6 separate regions of the Homo sapiens genome follow, and all the other regions are linked to region 2. Evidence: fine-mapped expression QTL. A gene starts in region 2. Each other region holds a variant in brackets. All regions are shown on one strand. Distances are from middle to middle.

Evidence for each region. PIP is the estimated chance that this variant, and not a neighbour inherited with it, causes the effect.
Region 1: its variant is fine-mapped to the expression of TMEM273 in whole blood (TOPMed, PIP 0.91).
Region 3: its variant is fine-mapped to the expression of TMEM273 in whole blood (TOPMed, PIP above 0.99).
Region 4: its variant is fine-mapped to the expression of TMEM273 in whole blood (TOPMed, PIP 0.98).
Region 5: its variant is fine-mapped to the expression of TMEM273 in blood mononuclear cells (TOPMed, PIP above 0.99).
Region 6: its variant is fine-mapped to the expression of TMEM273 in whole blood (INTERVAL, PIP above 0.99).

Annotation. Positions count from the first base shown.
Region 1 is chr10:49,041,027-49,046,102 of GRCh38, forward strand. The region is part of intron 7 of VSTM4 (V-set and transmembrane domain containing 4); the gene reads right to left. Among named protein-coding and RNA genes, the nearest start is that of MIR4294, 58 kb to the left of the region's middle. The variant G/T (reference allele first, on the strand shown) is at 2,270.
Region 2 is chr10:49,186,258-49,191,333 of GRCh38, forward strand. It overlaps TMEM273 (transmembrane protein 273), which reads right to left and starts at 2,134. Exons shown (of 7, transcript NM_001288740.3): 1 at 2,037-2,134. The coding sequence starts at 2,079. RefSeq lists enhancers at 3,963-4,122, 4,583-4,802.
Region 3 is chr10:49,144,202-49,149,277 of GRCh38, forward strand. FAM170B-AS1 (FAM170B antisense RNA 1) reads left to right here. Exons shown (of 6, transcript NR_038973.1): 5 at 1,581-1,699. Among named protein-coding and RNA genes, the nearest start is that of FAM170B, 13 kb to the left of the region's middle. The variant T/C (reference allele first, on the strand shown) is at 2,575.
Region 4 is chr10:49,002,276-49,007,351 of GRCh38, forward strand. No RefSeq gene overlaps it. Among named protein-coding and RNA genes, the nearest start is that of MIR4294, 19 kb to the left of the region's middle. The variant A/T (reference allele first, on the strand shown) is at 2,325.
Region 5 is chr10:49,133,696-49,138,771 of GRCh38, forward strand. It overlaps FAM170B (family with sequence similarity 170 member B), which reads right to left and starts at 326. Exons shown (of 2, transcript NM_001164484.2): 1 at 112-326. The coding sequence starts at 223. FAM170B-AS1 (FAM170B antisense RNA 1) reads left to right here. Exons shown (of 6, transcript NR_038973.1): 2 at 1,961-2,386. The variant C/G (reference allele first, on the strand shown) is at 2,543.
Region 6 is chr10:49,206,846-49,211,918 of GRCh38, forward strand. No RefSeq gene overlaps it. Among named protein-coding and RNA genes, the nearest start is that of TMEM273, 21 kb to the left of the region's middle. The variant C/G (reference allele first, on the strand shown) is at 2,338.

The DNA.
Region 1 (5,076 bases), 150 kb before region 2:
AATTATCCACTAACTTTGTGTGAGTCAACAGGTGGCTATTGACTTTTGTTTGAGCTACCATCAAGACCTATTGATCTAAGAGATAAATATCGACCAAACTGAGACTGAGGTCAATGCTGGCCTCCCGGGAAAATAAATCTTGATATTCACCAAAAACTGCAGATGCTAGGCCTGATATTTTTGTCTCTAAACTAATGGTCTGATAGAGGCCCTACTGAGGTCAGCTCTTGTCTTTATTGTGAATTGTTATAGGTGTAAACTAGCTTCCAAATTGACCTTGCTTCTGGAAAATTTGGTATAAAAGCTTCCAATTTCTTTGTATTTTAAATGATCAAGGGAAAACCTGTTATTTAAAGAACTATTATTGAGAATACTTCCATAAAATAAAGAATCCTTCTGAAATGCATATAGCTGCCCCAATCAATTATCTGTGAAAATTGAGAATTTCCTATGATGAGTCCCCACCCAGAGAAGCACATCAGCTCAGACACACAAACAAGTCAACAACAAAAAACTTGTAGTCAGGACCACAGCTATATTTGAAAACTCTATTGAATCTGATATTTTTTTAGTTGCAAAAAAATGCTTAAGATAGCATTTTGCACCCAAGAGGTGCACAAAAGATTTTCATGTTTAATGGATAAATGAGAGGTGGGTCCACCCAGGCTATGCACTAGGGGAAGTTGTTTCCTGAAGACTGATGACATTACACCTGAGGGATATGGATCATGTTTCTTAAATAGTGTTGTTTGTTCTCACATGCAAAGCTTGTAGGGGGCAATGAGAAAATCTTATTGTGAGAATTAAATACGATGACATGCCAAAAGCACTTTTTTGATCTATCCCTGGGACATATCAATAAAACTTCAATATATAGTTGTTTCTGTTATTAGAAGGGGTAAGAGACTGGATTAGAAACAATATGTCCTGAGTAACTTAGAGAGAACATAAGGTGGGGAAATTAAGTGTAGTCACTCTGTAGTCACTCTTAAGGTAGTTGTTAAATATCAGAATTAGAAAGAAAAGATCTAAAAGAGCCACATAAACACGCACACCCAGATGTGCAGTGCTGCACACAGTCTAGAGGACAGTGAACTCAGCCTGTCTATCTGCAGGAGACTGAATGTAACAGGTGAGAAATGGGATGCTCCAAGGCCAAGGGAAATTGATTGTTTTAGCCTTTATGCTCCACAGTTTCCAAAAGCCCACTGACTGCCAATGGCCTATTAAAATAAGCCAAAAGGCCTGCTGCTGCCTTTAAGAACCATATGGTATAGTCAACAGAGTAGAATTGATGAGGATTTTTTGATAACATGAACCAAATGGAACCCACTATATGAAAAGCCTGCTAGAACCCACAGTTCACTGCAGGCAAAAGAAGACTCTTTAAAAAACAGGTGAAGCACAGAGCAGCAAGGACAGGAGCAAGGCTGAGCCACACAGGCATTCAGGATCACATATAGAGAGCAGCTAGGCCCAGACTCCGCACTGAGGCAAAGCTTCCAATGTGCTGGTGAAAACCTTAGATTTTGGATTAAGCCCTGACTGCAACCCACAAGCTGTGTGACCTTGGGTACATCACCCATCTCTCACTTTACTGACTCTCAGAGGCTCATGTACCCAATTATGGATGTAGAATTACAGAACCTACTCAACAGGGAGGGTGTGCAGAATCATAAACAAATATCCATTGCGCTAAACACATTTCTAAACATGAAGAATACAGCAGGAATCACAGCAGACAAGCTCCCTGCCTTTATGGATCTTGTAGCCTGGTAGAAGAGATGGATGATTAATAGATATAAACACAAAATATGTCAGGGTGGGTGGTGTTTTATATAGGCTATCAGGACAGCTCCTTTATTACATGATGTTTGATCAGAGACCACAGGGGGTGAGTAATAAGCCATGGACAGATTCTGGGGAGGACATTCCAGGAAGAGGGGAGAGTGGGTACATGGGCCCTGACACAGGAACATGCTTGGTATATTTAAGGATTAGCAAGGAGGCCAGTGTGGCTGAAGGGAAATGAGAGAGAGGGATGGTCATAAAAATCATGTCAAAGAAGCAATGGGGGCTAGATCATTCTGGGATGCACTGTCCAATGTGGTAGCCACTAGTCAAATGTGTTTACTAAGCACTGGAACTGTGGCTGTGAATTAAGATGTGCAGTAAGCATCAAATAGACACTGGATTCTGAAGACTTACCACAATAAAAATAATAGAAAATATTTAATTAATAATTGCTATATTGATTACATGATTAAAT[G/T]ATAATATTTTTGATAGTTAAGTTAAATAAACTATACATTAAAATCGGTTTCATCTGTTACTTTTCAAACCTTAAATGTGGCTACTAGAAAGTTTAAATTACCTATGTGGCTCAAATAATATGGGGAATTATAGGTGACAGTCATGAGGTTGGCATTTATGTTCAGCAATACAGGAAGTTCAGAGAAATGCATTATGAAGTGCTTATCCTATTTCTCTGCACCTAGTGGAAAAAGTTTATGAATCTAGAATTCCATTCACAGACAAATTGCTCAAATGGAAAGGCAAGTAAAGGTAATGAAGGGAAAGACACTGGACTCAAAAAAAAGGAATAAATAACAAAACAAAAATTAAGTTCAAATAATTGTTTAGAATATGGTGATGAAATTAGCAAATAATGATTGTTGAAATAGAAGGCATAAGGTAAAATAAAAAAGAGTCTGACAAACAGATAAAATTGGATCCATTTCTAAACTCCAAATGGATCAGAGAAATACAGGCAAAAAAGAAACTGCACAAGTACTTCATTTTAACTATCCTGGTGGAGGTGAACTGGCTTTATGCTTTTAAATTGCACTGCCATGATGCCTATTAGGTTAAGGACTTTTTATGAGTTTACTGGCTATTTGTATATCTTCTTTTGTCAAGTGCACATTTAAACCTTCTGTCCATTTTTTGGTAGTGCTGTCTTTTTACTTCTTATTGATTGGCAGGTGTTCATATGTTCTAGATAAGAAACCTTTGTCAGGTCAGCCAGGTGCAGTGGCTCATGCCTGTAATCCCAACACTTTTGGACGCCGAGGTGGAAGGAACACTTGAGGCCATGAGCTCGAAACCAACCTGGACAGCATGGTGAAACCCCAACTCTACTAAAAATACAAAAACTAACCTAGCATAGTGGCATGCACCTGTAATACCCGCTACTTGAGAGGCTGAGGCACAAGAATAACTTGAACCAGGGAGGTGGAGGCTGCAGTGAGCCGAGGTAGTACCACTGCATTCCAGCTTGGGTGACAGAACAAGACTCTGCCTCAGAAAAGAAAGAAGAAAGAAAAGAAAAGAAAATTAATGACAAGAAAAGAAGGAAGGAAGGAGAGAGAGAGAAAGAAAAAGAAAGAGAGAAAGAAAGAAAAAGAAAAGAAGGAAGGAAGGAGAGAAAGAAAGAAAGAAAAAGAAAGAAAGAAGAGAAAAAATTAAAGAAAAGAAGGAAGGAAGGAGAAAAAGAAAGAAAGAAAAAGAAAGAAAGAAAGGAAGAAAGGAAGGAAGGAAGGAAAAATTAAAGAAAAGAAAAAGGAGGGAGAGAGGGAGGGAAACCTTTGGCAGATATATGCATAGAGATATGTCCTGCCAGTCTGCAGCTTGCCTTTTCATTATTTTAACTGTATCTTTAAACAGAATAGAAGTTCTAAATGTTAATACAACCCAGATTTCTTTATCCATTCCTTCATGTTGGTGCTTTATGTGTCTCGTTTAAAAACATCTTTGTCTACTCTGAAATTAGGAAGAAATGCTACCTTCGGGAAGCTTTACTTTGTACCATTCATACTTATGTCTATGATCCATCTCCTGTTAACTTTTGTGTGTGGTGTAGAGAAGGGGCTATAGATCTTTTTTTCATATGGATATCCAAAAAACCCGTCACCAAACATTGAAAAGATAATCTCTTTTTCACTGCACTGCAATGTCACTGTTGTCATAAATCAAATGACAATCCTATGCAGTTATGTTTGGGGCTCTTTATTCTGTTCCTTTGTCTACTTGTCTGCCCTTGTATTAATACCCCATTGTATTACTTACACTTGCTTTAATGTAGATGTCGAGAATTGGCATATAAATCCTCCACCTTGCACTCCGCCCTCAAGATTGTCTTGGCATACACACCTTAGAATAGCTTTGACAGTCTTTCTTTCTCTCTCTCTCTCTCTCTCTCATGCACACACACACAACTAACTGCTGAATAATATTAACAACAAAATAAATAATTATGTAGTTAAAAACTAAAAAATAAATATCCACGGATCCATACTGATATCAAGGAATTAGTGAACAATAAACAAATGAAAAAAGGGGGCCATTTTCCTTATAGAAGAATTCCAAATAATACATCTAGAAAGATTAAGGGAAATAGAAAATCACCCTTAGTGCACCATAGTAAAATCTGCTGCAAGCAAAATCTACTGATGAATGCAAGATTAGTGGGCAAAAGTTCAAGGAAAAACAAGATATTTGCAAGCCTTAACATATCTCCCCTAAGATTTTTATTAATTACTGTGGTGGGTTTAACATATCCACAAATTCATGACATGCCTCCCTTCTGGAGGTGGAGCTCAACTCTCCTCACCTTGAATGTGAATTGGACTCAGGGACTGGCCTCTAACAAATAGAGTCTGGAAAGGAGAAAATAGTAACTTCAAAGTAAAGAAACCTGGCAGACACCACCTTAACCACGTGATTGAGATGAGCATCACCATTAACAAGATATATTGTCGTCATGTGCCCCGATACCATGCAATGAGAAGGGAGTTCCACCTCTGTGCTCTTTGTCCCCCAAATCCGTAACCCCATGATATGGTTTGGCTCTGTGTCTCCACCCAAATGTTATCTCAAATTGTAAACCCCAGGTGTCAAGGGAGGGAAGTGATTGGGTTAGGGGGTGGTTTCCTCCCCGCTGTTCTCATGACAAGCGAGTGAGTTCTCATGAAATCTGATGGTTTTATAAATGGTAGTTTTTCCTGTGCTCACACACACCCTCTCTCGCCTGCCTCCATGTAAGATGTGCCTGCTTCCCCTTCCACCATGACTGTAAGT
Region 2 (5,076 bases):
TATTGTTGGAAATACTAAAGCATAATTAACTTAGTCAAATTCCTACTGATAGTCTCTTGTTTCTGGTTCCCACCGTGGTTTCGGCAGTGTTGAATAATACCCTGTGAAATATTTTGGGAGGGTTTTACCATATTATTTCATCAGGTTATATTCCTGGAGGTGGAATTTCTGGGTGAAGGGTTATGAACATCTTACATTTCGCTTACATTGACACCCAGATTTTGCCAAATTGCCCTCTGGAGAGAGTGAATAAATGAGTCCCCTCATATCCAATAGTGAGTGCTCACCACTTATCACATCCCATGCTAAGTGCTTTAAATGTGGTAACAGATTTCATTTTCCCAATAGTCCTGTGAGGTGTCCCCAACTTACAGATGAGAAAACTGGGCACAGAGAGGATTAATTCTTTGTCCAAGTTTTCCAGGCTGGTAAACAACAGAACAGGGATGAACATTTAAGGAGTCTCGTACTGGATACCCACTCCTAACCACTGTGTACCTCTATCAATAGTATATGAAAGCAGAAACGAGCTGTGATGCCTTGGCCCAGTGATTAAAACCTTATCTATAACATGCAGGTAATTGTGGCACCTATTGCACAGAGTTGCTGTGGGAACCAAATGAGCTCATGTAACATCTTCAGCAGAGCACCCAGCACATCGACACACTAAAAAATGCGAGGAGGTGTTAGATCTTTTATTATTTGTGAGACTGGACATTTTAAAGTTTTATTGTCTGTGATTCTTCAATGAATTGCCTGTTTATATAATTTGCACATTTTTCATTGGATTTCTTAAATTTAACTTCCTTTTTTTGTACCAGGACAGACTAGTTTGTTTATCTAGGTAAGTCAAAAGCAGAAATAAGGGTTACAACTTCTCTTACCTTCCACCACGTCTCTGGGCAGGCACACTGCATCTAACCACCGTGCACACCCTTAATCGCTGCTTGCTGGTGCCTGACATCCCTTCACAGTCACTGCCAACGGCCCGTTTCCATGTGTAAACTGATGGATGATGTGGCTGGCTGTCTGTCTGACATGCTGACTCCCAAGGCCAAAGTCTTTGCTCTCCCCTGCTTAGTGCAGACTTTAGATGGAAACCTGCCCACAGCACTAACTTTGCCCGCATTCAGGATACAACCTATTGGTCTGGAGACACAAGATTTAATCTGGAGACAGACTGCTTCCCATTGAGTCTCGGCCCAGTGCAAGTTCTGGGAAGGAACGTCTTTGTATATATGAGGGACGTATGCTGCCTTTTTAGGAAACAACAGTTGATATCAGAGGGGACTTCGTAAAGGCATGTGTCTCTCTCCATCTCTGTCTCCATCTATGCATATTTCTAACCATCTCTCTATGTCTCTGTCTGTCTCTCTCTCTCTCTCTTTGAGTTTCTTCCTCTCTGTCTACTTCTCTGACTTTATATTTCTCTCCTCCATTTGGCCCTACTTTGTTTTAGTCTTTGCCTCTCTCCTTTCTTCCTTCTTTCAAGGAATGCATTAAAGATAATTTTTAAAAACAAAGATACCTCTGAGTAGCAAAGAGTCTGCTTCACTGCATGAGAATTCTGATTCAACATTAAATGTATACCAGTATCTACATGCCTACATGTTCTCATTCTATGTCAGTATTTTGATTTGACTTAATTAAATTTAACTTAACTCTCTTGAAATCCCAAAAAGTAAACATGATTATCTCCCATCTCATTGGTTCAGAAAGTTAGGGAGTTTCAGAAGCTTATTCTAGTTTATCAGCAATGGAGCCACAGTTTACACCCAGATGTTTCTAGATCCCAAGCCCGAAGCTCCTTCTGCCATGACCCTTCCTATTCTCCTTTAGCCCAGAAGCATTTGTAAGTTGCAGCTGGAATGAGACAAACAAGATCATTGCTCACTACCAGATCAAAGTGAGAAACATCATCTGTGTAAAGGGACAGAGTTATGTTTTAGGGATCAAGCCCCAGTGGGCTAAGGCTCCCCCAGTTTCCTGCCCACTGAGGCTCCCCCGGGCCAGAGACCCCCGCAGTCCCCACTTACCCAGGAGGAAGAGGATCCTCAGCATGCTGACCCCCAAGTTCATGCTGGCGCTCTGCTCTTGGCTCCTGGCTCCTGGCTGCTGGCAGCGCAGGCACAATGAGCCATGTGACCCAAGGCTCTGGGGACAGGACAAGACCCACGTGACTGATGGGGAAGGAAACCACTGTCACAGCCAGGAGGCTGTTCAGTTCCTCTCAGCCTCTCTGAAGACAGGGCTGAAGGAAGCCCCTGTCATTCTGGACTCCACCAGAAGCTGGCTGTGATTAGACCCATTGTACATGCTGGGGTATTATACCCAGTGTTCTCTCCTATAATCTTCCCCACAGAGTGTGGGAACAAAGCTCGGTAAGGTGCGGTTTCTTGCCTAATGACCCATGCTAGTAAGTCTCAGAGAGGAATGTGGGCAAAGCCGGTCTGCCCTGCAGTCCAGCCCTTGCAGTAGCCTCTGCCTTGGAGCAGAAATAGGAAATGCCCCTCCAGCCAATAGTCCAGCTCGGTCACTGTTTTTGTGCCATGGGAGCCTCTGAGTCTAGGAATGCCTATCACTCTCTTCTCAGAATAAGATTTTTAAATCCCCAAACTAAAATAGATAAGGATCATAGTAGAAATCAGTAGTATTAACACACAGTTATCAAAATATTTTGTTAAACTTGTGAAGTAGAAATATACATGCTTATTTATCCACACAGTAAATAGCAAGATCTGGCAGCAGATGAAACAGCTACCACCATCTCGACATGGTGATAAATGGAATCGATATTGAGAGATACCTGTAACAGCTGGAATGTGGATGGAAAGACCTGTGATTCCTACCAGAAATAAAGTTACTGGGTGGTAATGTTTCTGTGGTTCGTTTGCCACACTACTATTAGAAGAAGATGCTAAGTGTTCCTTAGAGGTTAGAGAACAGAGATGTAATTTTTTTCCCATCCAAGTTTACAGGCCCCATGTCCAGGTCCTTAGCCTGGAGGAACTTTGGTAGTCACACAGGCTCAGCCAGCAGGCTGAAGGCCTTATGCTCCTGTACTCCTTTATACCTGCACGTTGTCACAATGCTTAGATGTTCAGCCAAAAACCCAAATGTGCAGGAAATGTCACTTTTTAAAATATAAATCAACTTAATGACAAGTCTTGAGTCCCCCACCCAACTGAGCTGGCAGAAATCGAGCTCTTTTCATTCTTGGGCTCCCTCAGTCAAATCCCTAACGGTAGCAGCCAACACCGTGAGCACTTGCTACTGAGCCCAATGCCATCTTAGCATGCAACCTGTCCAAGTCCACGCAGCAGTAAATGTGAGAGCTGGACTCGAAACCCAGGCCTTTGGCTGGCAGCCTATGCCCCTCAGGCTGCATGTGCCCTCTGTGTACAGGTACCATCCCCTGCCAAGGTCCAGCCAGAGGCAGTCCGATTGCCCTGGTGCCACAGATGCCCCCTGGGTTCTTCTGCATGGCTGCTGTGGCTCCTTCTGAGTTTCACATAAATAATGGACATGAGAGGAGAAGGCTGGTCATGAGAGAAGCAATTGGCTTCATCTGGGTGCCTTCAAGTTCCATCTGTCCACACTTTATTCATTTGATGAAATTAAGATCAGTTTCTACCTGCACCAAGAAACATACTCTCTTATTTCTCCTGGAATATGTGGAGTTTTCTTAATTTTGCCCCAGTTCATGGGAACATGTGTAAGAAAAATATTTCACTTTCCTCTAAGTGTATTGAAAGAAAATGCCAGTGCAGACCTGACAATCTGTAGACAGTGGCTGGGGACGGTGGAGCTACATTCAGGCCAGGCCCAGGGCTTCCAGCCACACCAGGCAGTTCTGTTTTTATATGAAATCAATAAGTTTCAAATGTCGGCAACTGATTTCAAAATACTTTCGCATGGGATGAGTCAACCTAAACACCAGCATGAACTTCTGCTCCCAAACACCTCTCCAAACATCCTTGGGAGCTCGACCTGTCCTACATACTCCCAGGAGGGGAAGCATCTGCAGCTACTTCTGCTTTCACTCTGCCGTAGCCTCCGAGTCTGGAAAATGCAGTCTGCTCCCTGCTTAGACAGGCAGAGGCTCAAAACGCCCCGTAAACTAGAATCTCACGAGATGCCCTGGCACCCAGCCACGGCACCTTGGCAAGATGGTGTGTGTCTTGTTGGCGTGGCACAATGCACCCAGAAGAGCGGATGCCCCACCCTGTACCCCTGTAATGAACGCCCAGTTCTGACCGTGAGGCTGCTCCTGGCACTGGCTCACACTGGCCCAGGAGCTTGTGAGGGCAGGGCCCAGGGCACCTGGCCTAGCACCTGACACAGTGCAGGCTCCTAGCGGTGTTTGTTGAATGAAGAATTCAATTCACCCCATCTATTTGGGAGGCTGAGGCAGGAGAATCGCCTGAACCCGGGAGGCAGAGGTTGCAGTGAGCCGAGATTGCGCCACTGCACTCCAGCCTGGGCGACAAGAGTGAAACTCTGTCTCAAAAAAAAAAAAAAAAAAGAAGTCGTTTCACTTTCTTATCTCATGCTCAGCCGGCCTAGCCTCCAGCCCACCTGGCAGGAATATTTTCCAGGTCATCTAGGTGAGGAAGGTCACTGCACTGACAAGCAGAAAAGAATGAGCCCCACTCCGGCAGCTCTGACATCCTGCCCCTCACTCGGATGTGGGGCCTCTTCCAAGGCCACCAAGCCTGGGACTCTTCTGTCCTTAGCACTGCACCCTCAGGACCAGCCAGGGAGCTCGTAGAATTCATGTCTCATGTGAACGCCTTTAGTGCAAGTCACAAAAAACTGCCAAACACCATCATTACGCATCAGATTTTTACAAATTTAAAGATAGGGAGGATTCAGCACGCAGATTTGTTTATTGGCCTTACATAGAACTGTGCACCCAACAATTAGAAAATAGCCATTCAATTCAGCATGCATGCAACATTTATACCCCAAAACGGTCTCACACTGGGCCATAATACAAGTCTCAAAAATTTCAAAGAAAAGGTGACATATAGACCATATTTTCTTACCACAAGGTAATTGAATTAAACGACAGTA
Region 3 (5,076 bases), 42 kb before region 2:
GCTCAGAGTGAGCCTGATCAAAGCCAGCTGGGCAAGCAAGCTCCAGGCCTGGCTGCAGGAAGAGATACCCTAGGGGCAGGCTTGGGTGGAGAGGGTCTGTGGGGGAGGCCAGGGCAGCCTCTCCAGCTGTGGGGACTGCGCCAGGGAGTGTGGCCAAGAATTCCAACCTTTTTGGGGGAAGTTGGGTATGACTGAGGCTTCAGACACTTGAGACCTGAATTAGCTGCTCCAGCTGCTGGGAAGGATGGCCCACCCAGAACTGTCTTCTTAGCCCCATGGTTGTAGAACAGAAAACAGTCAGCATTTACCTACACCACCAACCAGGTGCAGAGCACATTTGCCTTCAAGAATACATGGATTCCAGCCAGGATGGACATGACTTGCCACAGGCAGGCTAAACCGTTCCCTTTCAGTGACTTTCTAAATGGGGTGGTAATTTCATTATGTCATCAAGTATGGTAGTCCCAGAGCAGATGATTTTTGAGCCCCTCTTCCCCATTTTCCAGGTGAATTTGCTTAAAGGTCACAGAGCTGCCGAGTTGTGTAGCAGGCGTCGGAGCCAAACGCCCATGTCTATCTACAGAGTGCAGGCTTTTTCCATCCCAGCAAGCCGGATCCTCATCCATTCCCACCTGAGCCCTCCCAGTGCCTCCCTCTGCCCTCCCCAGCTCAGGACACCTGCCCCAGCCAACAGCTCTTCCAGCCACCACCATCCATCAATTCCTCTAAGTGGCAGAGCCCCATAAAGAACCAGTGTGAGCCCAGACTTGGTATTACCATGTCTCCATCCTGCAAAAGTGAACACAGCTCTACAGTGGTTATTTCAAACTGTGCCAGGCAAATGCTAAGCACATATTATAAATTATCATTAATTGAGGAGATGTTTCCTTTTGGGCAGCAGAATACCTCACTGGTTCTGCGGACAATCGCTGAAGCTTAGAAGTTGCAGTACATCCACAAGTTTTCTCAACTGGCCTGGGCCCAAATATGACCTTGCAATGTTCTCCCTCATGGCTTTCAGATGACAGCACAGGCTCCCCACTCAGAATGCGGCAGTGGAAGAGGGGCTCCCTTCCAGCCCCCACGTGATGTCTGAGAATGTGACCTGCCCCCGCCTGCAGGTTCCAGGTGTCAAAGTCACCTCCTGTCACCGTCCTCTGATTTTGTTCTTTTCTTTCTCCCCTTTTTACCATCTCTTCCCTAATGTTGGGTGAGTCATTACCATGCCCATTTAGAAAGTCACTGAGAGAAGATGCATTTAGCTTGCCTAAGACCATTTCATGCCCTTCCTGGCTGGAATCTATCTTTCCTTGAAGAGACATTGAGGGTTTTAAGTGGCAAAACTTCCCCAAACAATCCCTCTTTGGACATTATTTTCTTTCTACAAAGCTTCACTCCCTTGAAACTTGTGGAAACTCTTTTTGAAGGCAGATCCCCTTTCTGCCAACCAGCTCTTCTGCCCAACTCCTTCTCTAGGAAGTGGTGTCAGTGGCCTTGGGCTTTTTCTTAGGAGGAGCGCACTAGGGTTCAGGGGCATAAAACCCTGCATGTGTTTGTCTACAGCTTTGCTCATTCCTCAGGGCTGAGCTGTAGATCCACGGCCACCATGATGAGCTAAGAGTTTCTGGATTCAGTGCCTGCTGTTGCTCCTGGAGATTTGTATCCTGATTGAAGGCTGGTTCCATATCTGTTCACCCAGGTAGTGGGGATAAAATTCATCTCTAAGCGAGCTACTCCCAAGAAAGAGAAGAGCAATGAATGCACCCTGGCCCTCCCCTGCTGACCTTCTCAACACCCACGGAACCCTGAGCCTAACATATGCCTGTGCCTACTGCTGTGGTCACAGCGTCCCCACCTTCACCTCACTCAGACATTGGGCTGACTTTGATCTCTAATCTTAGCTTGTTTTCACCACCTTGCTACCCTGTTTGCCTTTCTGGTCTCACAGTTCATTCTGTCCATGTTGCTCTCCTATCTGGGGGCTCTCTCAACCAGGTTCACCCACAGAAGCAGCAGAAGCAGCTCTGACCTCTCTGCCTCCAAGAGCAGCCTGGCATAATCGGAGCCAAACCTGAGGTGTAAACTCAAAGAGGCCAGAGAGGAACATGCTTCTGTTCCAATGTCAGTGCTCCAGAAACCCTGGAGACCAGCCTCCCCAGTAACACTAATGCTCAGACTTCTTCCACAGTGGAAATGCCACATGCAAACTGCAGTTTTAGGAGTAAAAATTCTATCTGCCCCTAGAAAAATTCTTGTGTCTATGGCAAAAGAATATACACAAGAATTTTTGTTACATGTGTTTTACAGTAACAAAAAAACTAGAAAAGGCACGCAATAAAAGACTGACTAAACCATTGGAAATGATTTCAATTAGGAAAAAAAATAGCAAAATGTTTAAAAGGCAAAAAACATGGGTGAGCATGTGGGAAAAGATATTGCTTTAGACTGTTAGAGGGACAGGGAATTGATAGGGATTCAGTGAGGAAGATTTAGGCAGTAACTAGTACAACTTTTATTTTCCATTTCTCCCTATGGTAATTATCCTAGCTAGTTTCCCAACCTCTTTTTTTCTTT[T/C]ACTTTTTTTTTTTTTTTTGAGATGGAGTTTTGCTCTCGTTGCCCAGGCTGGAGTGCAGTGGTGCAATCTCAGCTTTCTGCAACCTCTGCCTCTGGGGTTCAAGTGATTCTCCTGCCTCAGTCTCCCAAGTAGCTGGGATTACAGGTGCGCACCACCATGCCTGGCTAATTTTGTCTTTTTAGCAGAGGCAGGGTTTCACCATGTTGACCAGGCTGGTCTCAAACTCCTGACCTTAGGTCATCTGCCCTCTTCGGCCTCCCAAAGTGCTGGGATTAGAGGCGTGAGCCACTACACCCAGGCTCAACTTCTTTTTGAGCAAACATAGTCATTTAAATTTGGGAAGAAAATAACCCATTTTATCTGGATGTTCAAATTATTTCTATAAAAATATTCTTTATAGTTGCTTATACTATTTGGATATTTTTAAAGGAATAGCAACAAATGTTTACTAAGCACCTGCTCTCTGCCCAGCACTGCCCTGGCAGTGAAAAAGACAAAATCCTTGTCCTAAAGAAGCTGGCATTACTGTGGAGGATGAAAAAAAAATAGATGGATGCAAGCATAAATACATAACATAATGCCAGTGGCAATAAGTGTCCTCATGATAAATATAGCATGGTAAGTGAATATATAACTAAAGGAGTGTTCTCAGGGGAGGCCTCCCTGCAGAATAATGTGGGGGAAGAACATTGAGTGGAGAGAGTGATCTGCCATTCAAGAACCTGGAGAAAAAGCTTTCCAGGTAGCAGAAACAGCAAGTGCAAAGACCTAGGCTAGATATGGCATTTTTAAAGCCTAGTAATTCCATGTGACTCTTTTATACTTTCCATTTGCCTGCCAAGGATTCCCCTCTGTTCACCTTTCTGTTCATTTCACCTGAAAAAATATATATATATTTACAATAATTGTTTAAGTCCTTAACTGCTAATTTCAACATCTGGATTATAATGGGTTTACTTCTATTGTCTGTTTTCTCTTGTTAAGAGTCATGTTTTCCTGCTTTTTTGATTGCCTGGTATTGTTCCTTTAAACATTGTGGTTGATGCATTATAGAAACTCTGGATTCTGTTATCTTCCTTTGAAGAGTGTTGATGCTTAGTTGTTCTATGTTTTCTTAGATTCTGTATTTGTCTACTAAGCATCCATTAATTACAGGGCCAAACTAACAGCTACTGTTGTATATATCTGCCCTGCAGTCCAGTTTCCCTAGGTGCCTGAAAAATCTTATCCCTGGCTGGGCACAGTGGCTCACAACTCTAATCCCAGCACTTTGGGAGGCCAAGGCAGGCGGATCACTTTAGGCCTGCCTGGCCAACATGGCAAAACCCCATCTCTACTAAAAATACAAAAAGTAGCTGGGAGTGGTGGCACGCACCTGCACGAGAATCGCTTGAACCTTGGGTGCAGCCTGGGTGACAGAGTGAGACTCCATCTCCAAAAAAAAAAAAAATTTATCCCAAACTTTCTCATCTATCCTGAGTGTGTGCCCCAACCACCTTCTTTACCTAACTCTCACACACCAAGCCAGTATTTCTCCTGCCCTAAATCACTCAGGGCCAGTCATTCAGACAACTGGAGACCAGAGCCCACCAACCCTATCCACACTAGCCAGTACTAAGTTGCTTCCCCTTTCCTGCCTTGCTTTTCCCATGGAAAGCTCAATAAAGGCTCTGGGCCATGCTTTTCTCTGGCTCTTTCTACCTTTTGACCAAACCTGGTGCTTCCTCCCTGTGGCCTCTTGGGACATGGTATGTCCCCTTCTCTTAGGAAGTGTAAGTACTGTAATAAATTATTCCTTCCATGACATGAGCTCTCTGTGTTGTCTTTCAGTCACCTTTAAAATTAAGTCCTGGGCACAAATCATTAGTCTGGCAAGTTACATCACTGGTAAGTTACCTTGATTCTAGAGAATCCTGGTTTTAGGCTGTGTTGACTGGGTCTATTTCAGTTCTGTCTCTAGTCCTAGAGCACAACCCCTAGTCTTGGTTTTCATGGGAAGCCAGCTGTGCTTACCAAGTATATTAGCGTTCTCCAGAGAAACAGAACCAACAAGATGTGTGTGCGTGTGTGTGTGCACGTGTATATGTATGTGTGTGTGTATATATATATATATATATATATATATATATATGTATATATAATATAAAGTGGTTTATTTTAAGGAACTTGCTCACACAATTATGAAGCTGGCAAGTACAACGTGCAGTCTGGGCCAGCAGGCTAGAGACCCAGGAAGAGCTGAGGTTGCAGTTCCAGCCTGAAGGCCACATGCTGCAGAAGTCCCTCCTGCTCGGGCTTTGCTTTGTCTGTGCCTTTGAATAATTAGATGAGGCCCACCCAAGTTACGGAGGGCAATCTGCTTGACTCAAAGTCCACGAACTTAAATGTAAATCTCATTCACAAACACCCTCACAGACACATCCAAAATAATGTTCTACCAACTATCTGGGCATTGTGGCCCAGCCAAGTTGATACATACAATTAAGCATCACACTAAGTCC
Region 4 (5,076 bases), 180 kb before region 2:
AGTGCCGAGCACTTTGACATTTGAGAGTTCAGAGTAATTGAGGTATTGAAATAAAATTGCTTCTGTTATTTAAAAGGTCATTATCGTCTTCAGCTAGATATATGAGGACTATTTTCCACTCTAGTGAGCCGTTCTCTCAGGCACAATTAGCATCGCTTGAGCAGAGATCTGCTGGGGAGGCTCCCACCCGGCAGCCCCCGCCAGAGGCCCCAGGCAGCCATTAAGACCCAGGGAGCACAGGGAAGCAGAGGAAAGCCTCCGACACCCAGAATCCCGGCTGCCTAGGGAGAGCCACCACTGCCCAGCCCACACCGGCTGTGGACTGGTCCCTGCGCAGGGGCTTACTGTGCAGTTCTGCCTCATCCTCAGAAAAGTCTTCAAGGATGCCATCATTGTCAGAGCATTGTGGGTGAGGAAACTGAGGCCCCAGGTTGGCCACATGCAGTGAAGCAGCAGAGGGTGCAGCCAGCAGGCCCAGGAAGGGAGATCTGCACTGAAAGCCATGCCCTGAGCACGGAGCAGGCCCAGACAGGGGCCTGACATGTGCTGGTCACTTTCACCAGACCCCTGAGCCCTTCCCCGCTCAGGGCTCACATAGCATTGCTTCAAGGATCCAAATCAGGTACAAACCTCAAACACCTACTAGGATGTTCTACTATAAAAACCAAATATTGCAGCTTTTCTCATTCAAGCCACTTCAATCCCACCTTATCATTGAGTTAGATAAATAGAATGGTCTTAATTACAAATTAGATACCTAATTTAGTGACTAATTTAGTAACTAAATTTTATCCTTGGTTATCATTAATTGAATATATCACAATTTCTAAATGTCCCTCAAAGAGAACATTGACTTCCAAAGACATCTTCATTGCCACAGTGTGGGACTTCGTGCTCCTGAAAGGCGAGGAATGGCAATGACAGCAGCCCGGGCACATGAGGGGTTTTCACAAAGCTCGTAGAAAATGCTTATGATGAAAAAACTATGATGCATTTCAAATTTTTTGCATCATAATAAAGTCATAATAACTCATTATAACATTTTTGAACAGCATCTAGTTTGAGACACTAAGAAGGATCAGACATCAGTTTGAAAACCACTGCTCAATGAAATAAAAGAGGATACAAACAAATGGAAGAACATTCCATGCTCATGGGTAGGAAGAATCAATATCATGAAAATGGCCACACTGCCCAAGGTGATTTATAGATTCAATGACATCCCCATCAAGCTACCAATGACTTTCTTCACAGAATTGGAAAAAGCTACTTTTAAGTTCATATAGCACCAAAAAAGAGCCTGCATTGCCAAGTCAATCCTAAGCCAAAAGAACAAAGCTGGAGGCATCACGCTACCTGACTTCAAACTATACTACAAGGCTACAGTAACCAAAACAGCATGGTACTGGTACCAAAACAGAGATATAGATCAATGGAACAGAACAGAGCCCTCAGAAATAATGCCACATATCTACAACTATCTGATCTTTGACAAACCTGAGAAAAACAAGCAATGGGAAAACGATTCCCTATTTAATAAATGGTGCTGGGAAAACTGGTTAGCCATATGCAGAAAGCTGAAACTGGATCCCTTCCTTATACCTTATACAAAAATTAATTCAAGATGGATTAAAGACTTAAATGTTAGACCTAAAACCATAAAAACCCTAGAAGAAAATCTAGGCATTACCATTCAGGACTTAGGCATGGGCAAGGACTTCATGGCTAAAACACCAAAAGCAATGGCAACAAAAGCCAAAATTGACAAATGGGATCTAATTAAACTAAAGAGCTTCTGCACAGCAAAAGAAACTACCATCAGAGTGAACAGGCAACCTACAAAATGGGAGAAAATTTTTGCAACCGACTCATCTGACAAAGGGCTAATATCCAGAATCTACAATGAACTCAAACAAATTTACAAGAAAAAAACAAACAACCCCATCAAAAAGTGGGCAAATGACATGAACAGACACTTCTCAAAAGAAGACATTTATGCAGCCAAAAAACACATGAAAAAATGCTCACCATCACTGGCCATCAGAGAAATGCAAATCAAAACCACAATGAGATATCATCTCACACCAGTTAGAATGGCAATCATTAAAAAGTCAGGAAACAACAGGTGCTGGAGAGGATGTGGAGGAATAGGAACACTTTTACACTGTTGGTGGGACTGTAAACTAGTTGAACCATTGTGGAAGTCAGTGTGGCGATTCCTCAGGGATCTAGAACTAGAAATACCATTTGACCCAGCCATCCCATTACTGGCTATATACCCAAAGGACTATAAATCATGCTGCCATAAAGACACATGCACACGT[A/T]TGTTTATTGCGGCACTATTCACAATAGCAAAGACTTGGAACCAACCCAAATGTCCAACAATGATAGACTGGATTAAGAAAATGTGGCACATATACACCATGGAATACTATGCAGCCATAAAAAATGATGTTTTTCTGTATGTTCTTTGATTGCTCCTTTGTGTGACAACAATTTTATTATACAACCTCAAATAGAAAGATAATTCAGTCTTTAAAAAAAAAGAAAAAAAAATCCCTTTGAGAACAACATGAATTTTGCTAAAATTGAAGTAAGAACAAACATCAAATTTATTGTGAGGTTTGGGTAAAAGAATGGTGATATTATCAATGCTTTAACAAAAGTTTATGAGGACAGTGTCCCAAGGAAATCAGCAGTTAACAAATGAATAACTCGTGTTGAGAAGGGATGAAACGATGTTGAGGATGAAGCCTGCAGCAGGAGACCATCCACGTCAGTTTGTGAGGAAAAAAATTCATCTCGTTTGGGCCCTCGTTGAAGAGGACCAATGATTAACAGCAGAAACAAGAGCCAACATCATAGACATCTCCACTGGCTCAGCTAATACAACTCTGAGAAAAATTAAAATTGAGCACACTCCACTCCATGGTGTCAAAACCATTGTGATCAGCAGACAAGAACAGAGTTTTCAATGAACATTTTAAACAAGTGCGATCAAGATCCTGAAGCATTTCTTTGAAGAATCGTAACAGGATATGAAACATGACCTTACCAGTATGATCCTGAAGACAAAGCATGATCAAAACAACACCTACCAAGAGGTGGAAGTGGACCAGTCACAGCAACAGTGGACGGGTCAAGAGGAAAGGTCATGGCAACTGTTCTGCGGGTTGCTCAAGGCATTTTGCTTGTTGACTTTCTAGAGGGCCAAAGAACAATAACATCTGCTGATTATGAGAGTGTTGAGAAAGTTAGACAAAACTTTGGCAGAAAAACACCCGGGAAAGCTTCCCAGAGAGTCCTTTGCCACCATGGCAGGGCTCCTGCTCATTCCTCTCATCAAACAAGAGCAATTTTCTGACAGCTTTGATGGAAATCATTAGGCATCCACCTTACAGCCACGATTGGGCTCCTTCTGACTTCTTTTTCTTTCCTAATCTTAAAACATATGTAAAGAGCATCCATTTTTCTTCATTTAATAAGGTAAAAGACTGCACTGACATGGTTAAGCTCTTGGGATCTTCAGTTCTTTAGGCTGATTAAATGGCTGGTATCACCATTTACAAAAGTGTCTTGATGTTGATGGAGTTTATGTTGAAAAATAAAGTGTGTATATATATATATATATATATATATATATATATATATATATATAAAAATTCAATTTTCTCATAAACTTTTTGAAGTCCCCTTGCATTTATAGGGCACTGGGTCTATGAGAGGCCATGTGCTGTTTATGATGAAATGACTCTTAGGAAACATGCACCCTTTGAAAGCAGGGACTCAAACAGGTCCTTACACACCCATGTTCATAACCTCACTATTCACAACAGCCAAAAGCAGAAACAACCCAAATGTCCATCCACAAATAAATGGATGCGCAAAATGTGGTTGTACATCCAATGGAATATTATTCAGCCTTATACAGGAAGGAAATTCTGATGCATGCTACAACATGGATGAACCTGGAGGACATTATTCTAACTGAAATAATAAGCCAGGCACAAAAAGATAAACCCCATATTGATTTCGCTACAATGAGGCACTTAGAATAGGCAAATGTATAGAAATAAAACCATTCTATTGTAAAGATACATACACGTGTATGTTCATTGCAGCACTATTCACAATAGCAAAGACATGGAATCAACCCAAATGCCCATCAATGATAAACTAGATAAAGAAAATGTGGCACATATACGCCATGGAATACTATGCAGCCATAAAAAGGAATGAGACCATGTCTTTTGCAGGGATATGGATGAAGCTGGAAGCCATTATCCTCAGCAAACTAACACAGGAACAGAAAACCAAACACCACATGTTCTCACTCATAAGTGGGAGTTGAACAATGAGAACACATGGACACAGGGAAGAGAACACACAACGAGGCCTGTCAGTGGGGCACGGGAGGGAGAGCATCAGGATAAATAGCTAATGCATGCGGGGCCTAATACCTAGGTGATGGGTTGACAGGTGCAGCAAAGCACCATGGCACATGTTTACCTGTATAACGAACCTGCACATCCTGCACATGTATCCCAGAACTTAAAATAAAATATTTTTTTAAAAAAAAGAAACAGAAAGCAGAGTGGTGGTTCCTAGAAGCTGGTGAGTAGAGGGGGATGAGGAGTTATTAATGGGGACAGTTTCAGTTTGGGATGATGGAGAAATTCTGGGATGGATGGCAGAGGTGGTTGAACAGCAATGTGATGCATTTAATGCCACTGAACTGTACACTTGAAAACAGTTAAAATGGTAAATGTTATGTAAGTTTTACCACAATCAAACAAACAAAAAATAAAAACAGGGAAACATGTATCCTAGTGGGGGCAACCCGGCAGGGGCACATGCAGTGTACTGGAGCGCTCAGAGGGTGGATGCAAGGTCATCTGTTCTGCATGGGTCTGACTTGGCCTTGTGCATGTTTAAAAGCTCCACTTCTCTCTGTTTCGAGATGTCAGTGTGTGAGCTGCAGAGTCACACAGTTACTCAGAAGAAAACACAGAGCCTGTCTGAACATCACAGATTGCAGGGCAGACAGTGATGTGGTGTCACTGGAGGATGAAAGGC
Region 5 (5,076 bases), 53 kb before region 2:
CAACCATTTGGTAACAGTATCAGGAGGCAACCTGGCACTGTCCCTTCCCATCAGGGCTTCCTTCCCAGGGAGCACAGCTGGCTGACCTTCCAGGCCTTTCTTTTCACCTACCTGGCCAGAACACTTCCACACTCTCCTCAGTGGACTCAGGGCTGGTCAAGCTGAGGGTGGTCCCATCGGTGGGTGACTGTTCTCCCCTGTGATCTGTGAAGTAGCATTTCATGATTTGAAATGAGTGCCCAGGGTGTCGGTGCTCCAGCTGTTCAGTGAGAGTTGGCTGGGGCTGTACTGAAGGCCTCCAGCTGGCCCCAGCCAGAGTGGACACTGAGCTCCCCATGGTCGCTAAGATCCTAGCTCTACTGTGTGACCTCATCGATGGCACTGGTCTGTTCTGTGACCCATGGCGAGGGCAGAGGCTGAGGCTGGATACCAGGAGAGGCTTCCCAACATGTTCTCATTTCCCCATGGGAACTCCTTTTCTGTCTTGTGTATTATCATGGACACACAGAAACACAAAACACACATACTCTTAACTCCTTAGACACACATAAAAACACAAACACATAAACACAGAGACACTTGTATACACTTAAGCATGCATGGAACCGCTGTCTTAGTCCATCTGTGTGGCTTACAAAGGGATACCTGAGGTTGGGTAATTTATAAAAGAAAGAAGTGTATTGGGCTCATGTTTCTGCAGCCTGTACACAAAGCATAGTGCCAGCATCTGCTTCTGGTGAGGGCCTTAGGAAGCTTCCATTCTCAGCAAATGGGGAAGGGGAGCAGGTGTGTTTAGATCACATGGGTAAGAGAGGAAGGAAGAAAGAGTGGAGGAAGTGACAGGCTCTTTTCAACACTCAGTTCTCACAGAACTAAGAGTGAGAACTCTTTACCACGAGGGTGGCACTGAGCCCTTCATGAGGGATTTGTCCCCGTCACCCAAACACCTCCCTCTACGCCCACCTCTCACATTGGATATCAAATTTCAACATGAGATTTGAAGGGGACACATGTCCATACTATGTCACTCACACACAAAGAAACGCATACATGATCACTCAGACACACATATACGCTGGAACACATATGGCACACACAGTAACATAAACATATGTACGTGTGTTCACATAGACACATAACATGCTCACACATACAAATTCACACACATATTTACTTAACCACACACACATACATGCACACAAATTCATGCCAGATTAATTAACCATACATAGGCTCACATACATACAGTCAGCAGCCAACATAAAATGACCCTGCTTCCCAGTGTGGAAAATCTCTCCTTCTCTCCCCCATCTTACGTCCCCACGCTGACCCTGTTTAGCTCCTCAACCCTCCACAACCCCACCCCACCCCTCCCCTCCCCTCTCCTCTACTCACTCCCTTGCTCAGTTCCTGTGACTCCAGACACTTCACTGCTCCCGGACATGCCCGGCATCCTCCCCTCACGGGCTCTGGGCTCTCGCACTTGCTCTTCCTTGTGCCTGTTCCAGGCTTTCCCCTAGGTTCCTGTGTGGCTCTCTCTCCTTCCGGTCTCCTCTGAAACATCACCTGGTCAGAGGAGCCTGCCTGGCACCCCCAGGAAAAGAGCTTTCTTTGGCCCTACAACTCTCTGTCACCTTACCCTGCTTTATTTTTCCATGATAGCATTTACCACCCTAGGCTGTATATAATGTCTGTGTGTGTATCTCATGGGTTTACCTGTATCTGTCTTCTCCTCCTTAGATGTAAGCTTAGGCAGGTAGGGACTTCCTTCGTTCCATCCACCTCATTATATCTCTAGTGTCTAGATCAATGTTTTACATATTAACAAGCACTCAGGAAATAATGAGTAAATAGCTGATGAACACGTTGGGCTGAAAAAGGCGTTACTCCCTCTGGGAGCTGCCTCCTCTGTGCTCCCTGGATCTCTGCAGTTCCAGGGTGGTTGGTTCTCTCCCACTAGGACTCTGGGAGTTGCCTCTTCCTTCTCCATTTGCACAAACCACGCTTCAGCCTCAATCAGCCTGATAAAATGTTCACCTGCCATCTCTCTGCTCTGCAACACGCTGGCACTTCACTCATTTCCTCCAACAAGCTTCTTACCACTTCCCTCTGTGGCTAATCTCTTCCCACCCTTGGTCAGTCTCATCAACTCTATTCCTTTGAATCCCAAATACTAAACAGTTCAGATAGGTGATGGATTGAAAATAATCCCAATATTCCACAAGCAACATCAACATCCCCCACACACCCAGCACCGAGGAATACCCTCCTCTCTAGAATGTGAGGCCACTGTGTGGAGGAAGACACCACGGTGCTCTACTGAGCCATGAAAGTCACGCCTGACCTAAACAGAAGACTACGTCCCCTGGCTAAAAGAGGAAATAGTGTAAGTGCACCCTTTTTTAACAAATAAATACAAAGACTTGCCTTACAAAAACAAGAGGGGGCAGCCAGCACAGAAAATAAGTAGGTCATTGGGGGATGGAAGGCAGTTCAGAGAGAGATGACATCATGGAGAATTGTTAAGCGGCAAAGTAAACAG[C/G]AAGTCTGGGAGGAAAGGAGACTCAGCCAACAAATTATGCTGAAAAATTATATTCGCTATTTTTTTGAATCAACTTTGGTCTCACTTCATGTAAAACAATTAAGAATATTTTCATAATGGTTCAGAGCTTACGCTTTAATGAAAAATGTGTAGAAAGAAAATATGTTAACATTTGTAATTACAAGGTGCTTTTTCTCAACTTAAACAATATTAGTCTTCGCAAGCATTGAGAAACTTTGTCATCTTTTCTAATTTCACTGCTTTAAAAAACTCACTGTTTCAATTTGCATTCCTCTGCTTTTCAGTGGAACTGGAAAAAAAAGCAAATGAGCAAGCAGTTTCCAGGGGAAGAAATGCAGAGGGATGATAAATATATGAGAAGATGTTGAGTCCTACTGTAATAAGGGAGCTACAACTTAAAAATGTGTAGTATACAGTATAGCACTTTTCACCCATGAGATAGGTAAGAGTTAAAAAGATGGACAATACCCAGTGCTGGTGAGGACGTAAGGAAATGAACACTTTTATTCTCTGTTGGAACAGTGTACCTTAACTTTCTCAAAAAGTTTGGTGGTACCCATTAGAATTAAAAGTGGGCAGGCACTTCCTAAGCAGTTTACTATCATCTCTTTCCTAGGGAACAGCCACATTACATGATATGTGCATAAAATAGCACCTAGAGAAATATTTATTGCAGCATTGTGTATAATAGAAATAAAGACAGGAGACTTTCCTAAGATCCATCAAAATAAAGAAACTACAACATAATCAAACTGTGGAATACTACACCACGATAAAAAGAAAGAGATCTATACATACTGATAAGTGAATTCATGTTAAATGAAAACACAAGATACAAGGAATAGATAGATGACCCCACCTATGTAAAAATCAAACATACTCCCTCAAAAGCACTGACCAAATTCTATATTGTCTATGTATCAAAAGGCACAGAGGAGATCTGAAAATAATCACACCCAAGAGAAAACAGTGTTGACCTCAAGAAAGAGGAAAAAGATTAGGTGGGGCTGTGTGAGACCAAATTTTCCAAAGATGGCCAAACCAATCTATATCACAACCCACATGCTCTTCTGATAACACGACAGCGTCCTTCTTCCTGAACTGGGGTGGATTTTGTAACTGCCTCAATCAACAGAATGCACAGGAGTGATGTTTTGTGACTGTCAGTGCCAGATCATAAAAGATGTGACTTCCTCCTGGTTCTGTCTCCCTTCTCCTTTGGACTCAGCCACTATGTTGTGAGGAAGCCTAGGCCACATGGAGAGGCCACATAGATGTGTTCCAGGCAGCAGCCCCAGCAAAGGTCTCAATCAACCACCATATGTGTGAGTGAAGGAACCTTCAGATAATTTTGCTTCCCAGACTTCAAGTCTTTCAGCTGGGGTCCAAGACATCACAAGGCAGAGACAAGCCCTCCTGGAATTCCCCACCCACCGTGAGCATAAGAAAACTGTGAGCATAAGAAAAGGTGTTTTACACACTAGTTTCTGGGGCAATTTGTTACAGGGCATGGTAATTCAATGGACTTTGATTTTCCCTTGTAATATTTAAATATGTTCTAGTGAGCTAGTTCGTTAACCAGCATCTGTGCTCTGTGCTTCTTCCTGGCCCAGTCAGGGAAACCTGGGGGCCAGGTGAGCCCTGTGGTTTTCCCAGGACAACTTGGGAGGATGGTTCCCATTCTTACCCCATAGGAAACAACTTACTAGATTGCAATGTTTATATACGGTTGCTTTTGTAAAGGCAAAAGCTTTACAATTTGGGATCCAAACGATGTTTTCCAAAGTCCCTTGAGTCGGGTCTTTCTTTACCCAGAATCTATATACGTTCTTCCTAATCCTCTCAAAAATTATACACTGTGAACCCTCCTTAGAGATAGGGAGCTTGGCACTTCAGAGGGGTTTGATGAACCTTGGGTGGGAAAGCTGGGAGAGAAGTGGCTTCCATCTCACGCCTGGGGGCAGGGCTGCATGGCCAGGTTGCTCTGATGTTTCCTATGGGCTACTTCCCTGGGGCTAGTTTGGAGTGAAGCCCCTCAGATGGTGAGCGATTGTCCTCCTCACTCACATGGCCTCTGGCTGTTTCCGTCTATGGGAAGAGCCTCTGCCCCAGCCGCTCTGCTTGCTCCATGCAGATGTTCAGCTGAGACCACCCACAAAGGGCTCCCACCCATCCCCCTGCCACTCTCCAGTGGGTTTTCCAGCCCTGCCAGGAACCTCTGCGCCTCACTGCTGCAGCCAGCAGGGCTGGTGTGCAAACCCCCAAAAGGACCAACGCAGCACTTTCTTGGAGCTCTGACGCCTGGCCAGCTCATTGCACACATTGCATGCGAGCCCTAAACCTCATCCAAGAGGCCTGGAATATTTTCTACTCTTAACTTTTCTTCCAAAACCTACTCTTCCCAGCCTCTGTTTTTCCCAGCTGAGGAGGCTAACAGGAAATAAAGTGGCCACAGCCACAGCAGGAAGCAGAGAGGCCATGTCTCTCTTCACTTCTAATTCCAGAGCTTGGCT
Region 6 (5,073 bases), 21 kb after region 2:
AAAGGAGAAGCGTGGGAGGTGCTCCTGGGAACACTGGAATTAGGGAATGGGATCCTGGCCCCAGGGGGAGCCTAGCCACAGGCGTCTCCACAAGGGCTGTCCAGAAAGACACCATACATGGCACACAACTCCCCCCACCCCACACGTCATGTTGTGTTGTCATCCATCTTCTCCTCTGGACCGAGAGTTCTCCAAGGAGCAGGGATGTGTCCGATTCATTTTTGTTTCTGCTGCACACACAGCAGTGCCTGGTATACAGCAGAGACTCAATAACTGTTAAATAAATGAATGATTGAATGAATCAGAAAATAGCAGAGAAGCCAAAGCCTACGCTGCAAGGTGGAATCTTAGGGAGGCCCACAGACTGTCACACTGAGAGGGCCAGTTGGTAATTTTTAACAAGAGTTTTAAAAATAACTGTGCTCTTTGATATGTGAACTATATTTCTGTAGGTATTTTATAAAAACGTAACCTCAAATATGGAAAATAACCCTATGTACAAACGTCCTTACAATAGTGAAAAGTCAGAAATGACTCAGATGTTCAAAGAGGAGCATTCCAACTCACTTGACAGGATATAGAGCAACTAATAAGGTAATTTTTACAAAGTAATAACATGGAGAAGCCCATTTGGGGGGAAGACAGTGTACAAAATTTGTTTACACAGCAAGCTCACAAAAATACATGGCGAAGAAAAAGGCTGCAATGAAATATAATAAAATGACAATAATAGCTGTATCTGGGCTGTATGCCTAGGAGAGGATCAATGTCTCCTCCTCTCAATTTTCTGTATTTTTCAAACTTTTATTAACGTCACAGCAGTGATCCCACTTCTAAAAGAGCCCTCAGCCCTGGTCCAGCTCAGTCACTACTCAATGCCTGCCCCTGGCAGGACGTGCCATCTGACGGGTCAGATGGCCCCAGGTGGGGCTTTTCCAGGAGAACCATCCCTGCGTTCAGCCCTGCAGTGACTTCTGCCCACGGAAACCTAAATCCAACCTCGGTGGAAATGTGCAGCAGCTGTATGTAAGTCATGGAGCTGCACTAAGCTCCGTGTATTTGTCCCTTGCTTTCGAGATTTTATTTCATTTTATTTTATGCAAGCTCCATTTGTGCCAAACTTCTGCCTTAGGTCCCAATCGGGACAATTATCTTCCACGTATCTACATCCTCTGTCATTTCCACTGGAATTTAGTCCTGTCACATCCTGCTCTGAGCTTTGCCTGCTTCTGAGCAGTTGGGAAGGGCTTTCTCAAGGGTCAAACATTATCCTCTAGCATGGCCTTTGTGGTACAGGCGTGGCTTTATCCTTTGCTCTCCCCAGAGATTTGTCTGGCAGATCACCTGTGCTCTAAGCTGTGGGGCCTATTCTCGGTCATCTTCGCTGCAAGAAGCCTAGAGACATGAGCAGCTCGTGCCGGGGGAGCTGATGCACAGAACGAGCTCTTGAGTGGATCATGAGCTCTAATTAAAGTTGGGGGTGGGAGGGATGCTAAGGGAGGAAGCAGAGCCCAGGATCAAAAATAGACAGGCAGGAGAGAGCGAGCAGTGTTTGCTTAGTGGAGGAGCAGCTGTGGAAAAAACAGAGGATGCTTAGCTCTGTCCTAAGCTACTGGGGCTGAGATTCTAGAGGGGTCCTGGGCTTTGGAGCAGAGAATAATGGCTTTGGGTCCTGGCTGTATCCCTTACCAGCTGTGCCTAGGAGCAGGGCTCGTGGTGGCCTCTTGGTGCATGGTTAGGACTTTAGTAGGGCTCTTAGTGCATGGTTAGGACCTCCACCCAGAAGCCAGCCTGCCTGGGTCCCAGACTCTGTGTTCCCATTTATACACAGTGTCACCTTGGGCCTGTCACATAACTTCCTTGGGCCTCAGTTTCTTCATCTGTAGGATCAGATTAATGAGAACAGTAAGATGTGCCTGGCACTGAATGAGCGGGCACCTGCAAGGTGGCACGGCCCATGTGTGCCACAGGCGGAGTGTTTGCTATTGGATCTAGTACAGTGTTTGGCACACACAGGAACACCTCACCCTAACTCTCCCAGCCTCAGTCCTCCCTGACTTCCTGGGTGCATCGGAAGCAGACCTCATCTGTAGTTCCGTCCTTCTGAGTCCTCCTGGCCCCAAATCCAGCTGTCCCTGCTCTCGGCTTCTCAAGTGGAATGGTTCTAGATCTGTGGTGGCCTTCTTGGAGCTGTCCGGCCTAGCTCTCATCTCCTATACCCCTACACCCCTCATCAAGTGAAAAAGGGGTTTCATGGACCCCCTGCACCAGGGTTGGCTACAGCCTGGGCACTAACAGCCTTCTCTCCAGACACAGACAGCAGAATGCTGGTCTCAG[C/G]TACTCTGCATCCTCACCTGGCCTTGCTTTCCCCCAACCCCACTCCTGGGCCCTGTAGTCAAGCAGCACATGGGGCTTACAGCTGGCTCTCAGGCTGCATGGGAGCAGAGCCCCCTCACTGGCTCTTCCTTTGTTCCCTCCATCTCTCCCATCCTTGCCCCCAGTGACAGCACAGCAGGCACACAGTGGGCAGGACACATTCCGCCACTCCACTATGTCCTGGCCCATGCAGCTGCAAAGCCAGGTAAGGTGTGGAATCCAGGATTATGGACCCCCAAAAAGAGCCATGATGAAGCCAGGGCTCTTCCTGCTAGAGCTGCCGGAGTGGAAGTCCACGAGTGGACATTCCAGGAAAACTTGGCCCTCAGGCCTCTGCCTCCTTCCCAAGGCTTTCACAGGAACAAACAGGGAATTCTTCATTCTTCAGCCTGGGCAAGGAAGCCCTTCTCCTTGGGACCCCACACTCACATTGTCTTTGCTGCTCTCCAGAAGCATTATTTATTTTATTTTATTTTATTTTATTTTATTTTATTTTATTTTATTTTATTTTATTTTATATGGCGTTTCACTCTTGTCACCCAGGCTGGAATGCAATGGCGCAATCTCAGCTCACTGTAACCTCTGCCTCCCAAGTTCAAGCGATTCTCCTGCCTCAGCCTCCCAAGTAGCTGAAGCTATAGGTGCCTGCCACCACTCCTGGCTAATTTTTGTATTTTTAGTAGAGAGGGTGTTTCACCATGTTGGCCAGGCCGGTCTCGAACTCCTGGCCTCAGGTGATCTACCCGCCTTGGCCTCCCAAAGTGCTGGGATTACAGGGGTGAGCCACCATGCCTGGCCAGAAACATCATTTATAATGGTAGCCACTAAAAACGTACAGATGAGCAAATAAGCAGATGTTGGGAACAACCTGATTCACCTTTTCTGAAAATCTATTTTCCCATTAGGAAGAAAATTGATAACAGTTCCAAGATGGACTTAATAGAAGCCACTGCATTGAATAATTTTATCTGATCATTTTTTTTCAGCATATACAAAATTACACAAAAGAAAAAAGAAATCTATTATATAGCTCCGTGTACAAAGGGCTTGCAGCTAGGGTCAGATCTTATTGCTTTTGGCCAAAAGCCCATGATAGAATTTAGACTAAAGAGTGTATAAGCTGTGTTCCTCAGAGTGGTTCAGGGTTACTTGGGACCGCACTAGAAAGATCTTTAGCATTTCAAAGCCTGTTCATAAAAGGAGTCACCATAGTACCCACCATATTGATTTATCCGGGCTGTCTAAAAATCCCTTTAGCTCTGATGTTTTGAAGAACCACTGCATACAAAGAGTGGATCCAAAAGTGAAGAGTCTGTCTGTATCAGCAGTTAGGAACCAGCCTTCTGTGGGATTGATTTCCCTGAGTGCTACTCAGAGTAACAAGGGATTCTGGGTGTGGATCTAGGACAAGAGACAATATGGGAATTCCACTGCTTTCAGGATGGAGGTAACATCTATCCTGGCCTCTAACGTTGAGTTGGGTTGGGGAAAAAATCTTTTGATAGTTCAAACATGTTCCATCCTTCACCTTCAAAAGCATTTCCCCTTGCAACTGGTTTCTGTGGTGTCTCAAAACCATGAGTGCCTTCTCTGTGTTCCATCGCCCATGGGCCTGCTGACTCCCCAAGAAAATGATTTTCATGAAAACCCCTCAAGGGAGAATGCACATGCTAGTAGGTCAGAGAAGAACTAGAGTGTGACCAGGTCCACTGGCCTGGAGCAGGTGAGGCCTGGGGTTAGGAAAGGACCTGCCCGTATCACACCATCAATGGCGGCCTGGCTCTGGTTGCTCTTCTCTTAGCCCCATGCCTTGTCAGCCCCATGTCAGGGTGACTTCTGCTTCTCTTCCGAGGAGGCCAATTTTTTCCTTTCAAAAGTGAATTTGATTTGAGAAAAGAGTAAAAGTTCACTTAGAGCCAAGTCTAGAAAAGTAGGTGAGCAGTCATGGGTGAAAGCCAATGAGGTTAAAGGAGTATCAGACCAGGCATGGTGGCTCACACCTATAACCCCAGCGCTATGGGAGACCAAGGTGGGAATACTGCTTGAGACCAGGAGTTTGGAACCAGCCTAGGCAACATAAAGAGACCCTGTCTCTAAAAAATCTTAATAATTGGCTGGGCATGGTGGCACAGACCTGTAAACCCAGATACTCCAGAGGTTGAGGTGGGAGGATCATTCAAGCTCAGGAGTTTAAAGTTACAGTGATCCTATGATTTCCTTATGACCAGCTTATTCCCCTGAATTTCATTTCTGTAGAGGCCACGCTTGAAAACTAGTCTGTGATGTATCTGAAAGAACCAATGTGAAATAGTTCTCAGGTTTGTCACCCGCCCATCCTGTCTGTCTCTCAGGATGCGCCGTGTGGCAAGGTACTGCTCTCTCATCCTTCTCTCCTTCCCATGCATGGTTCTCACCCCACCTCTGTTCATTTTCTCTCTTGAAACAGTACACACTTAAAGAAAAACACAAGTTCAATTTGATATGCTGTTACAGACAGAGACTCGCTTACCAGATCTTTGCTCTCTAGTCTCTTTTCACCAGAGTTAGCAAATATCTAATTCCCAGAGACGCAAACCAACAATTTGAGAACGGAAACCAATCTTTGTTTCACCTCTTCAATTGATCAAATACTTGCCGAGGTCATGGAAAGAAGGCACTGAAATTAAATCAAACAGCCCCAGCTGGAATCCTGGCCTT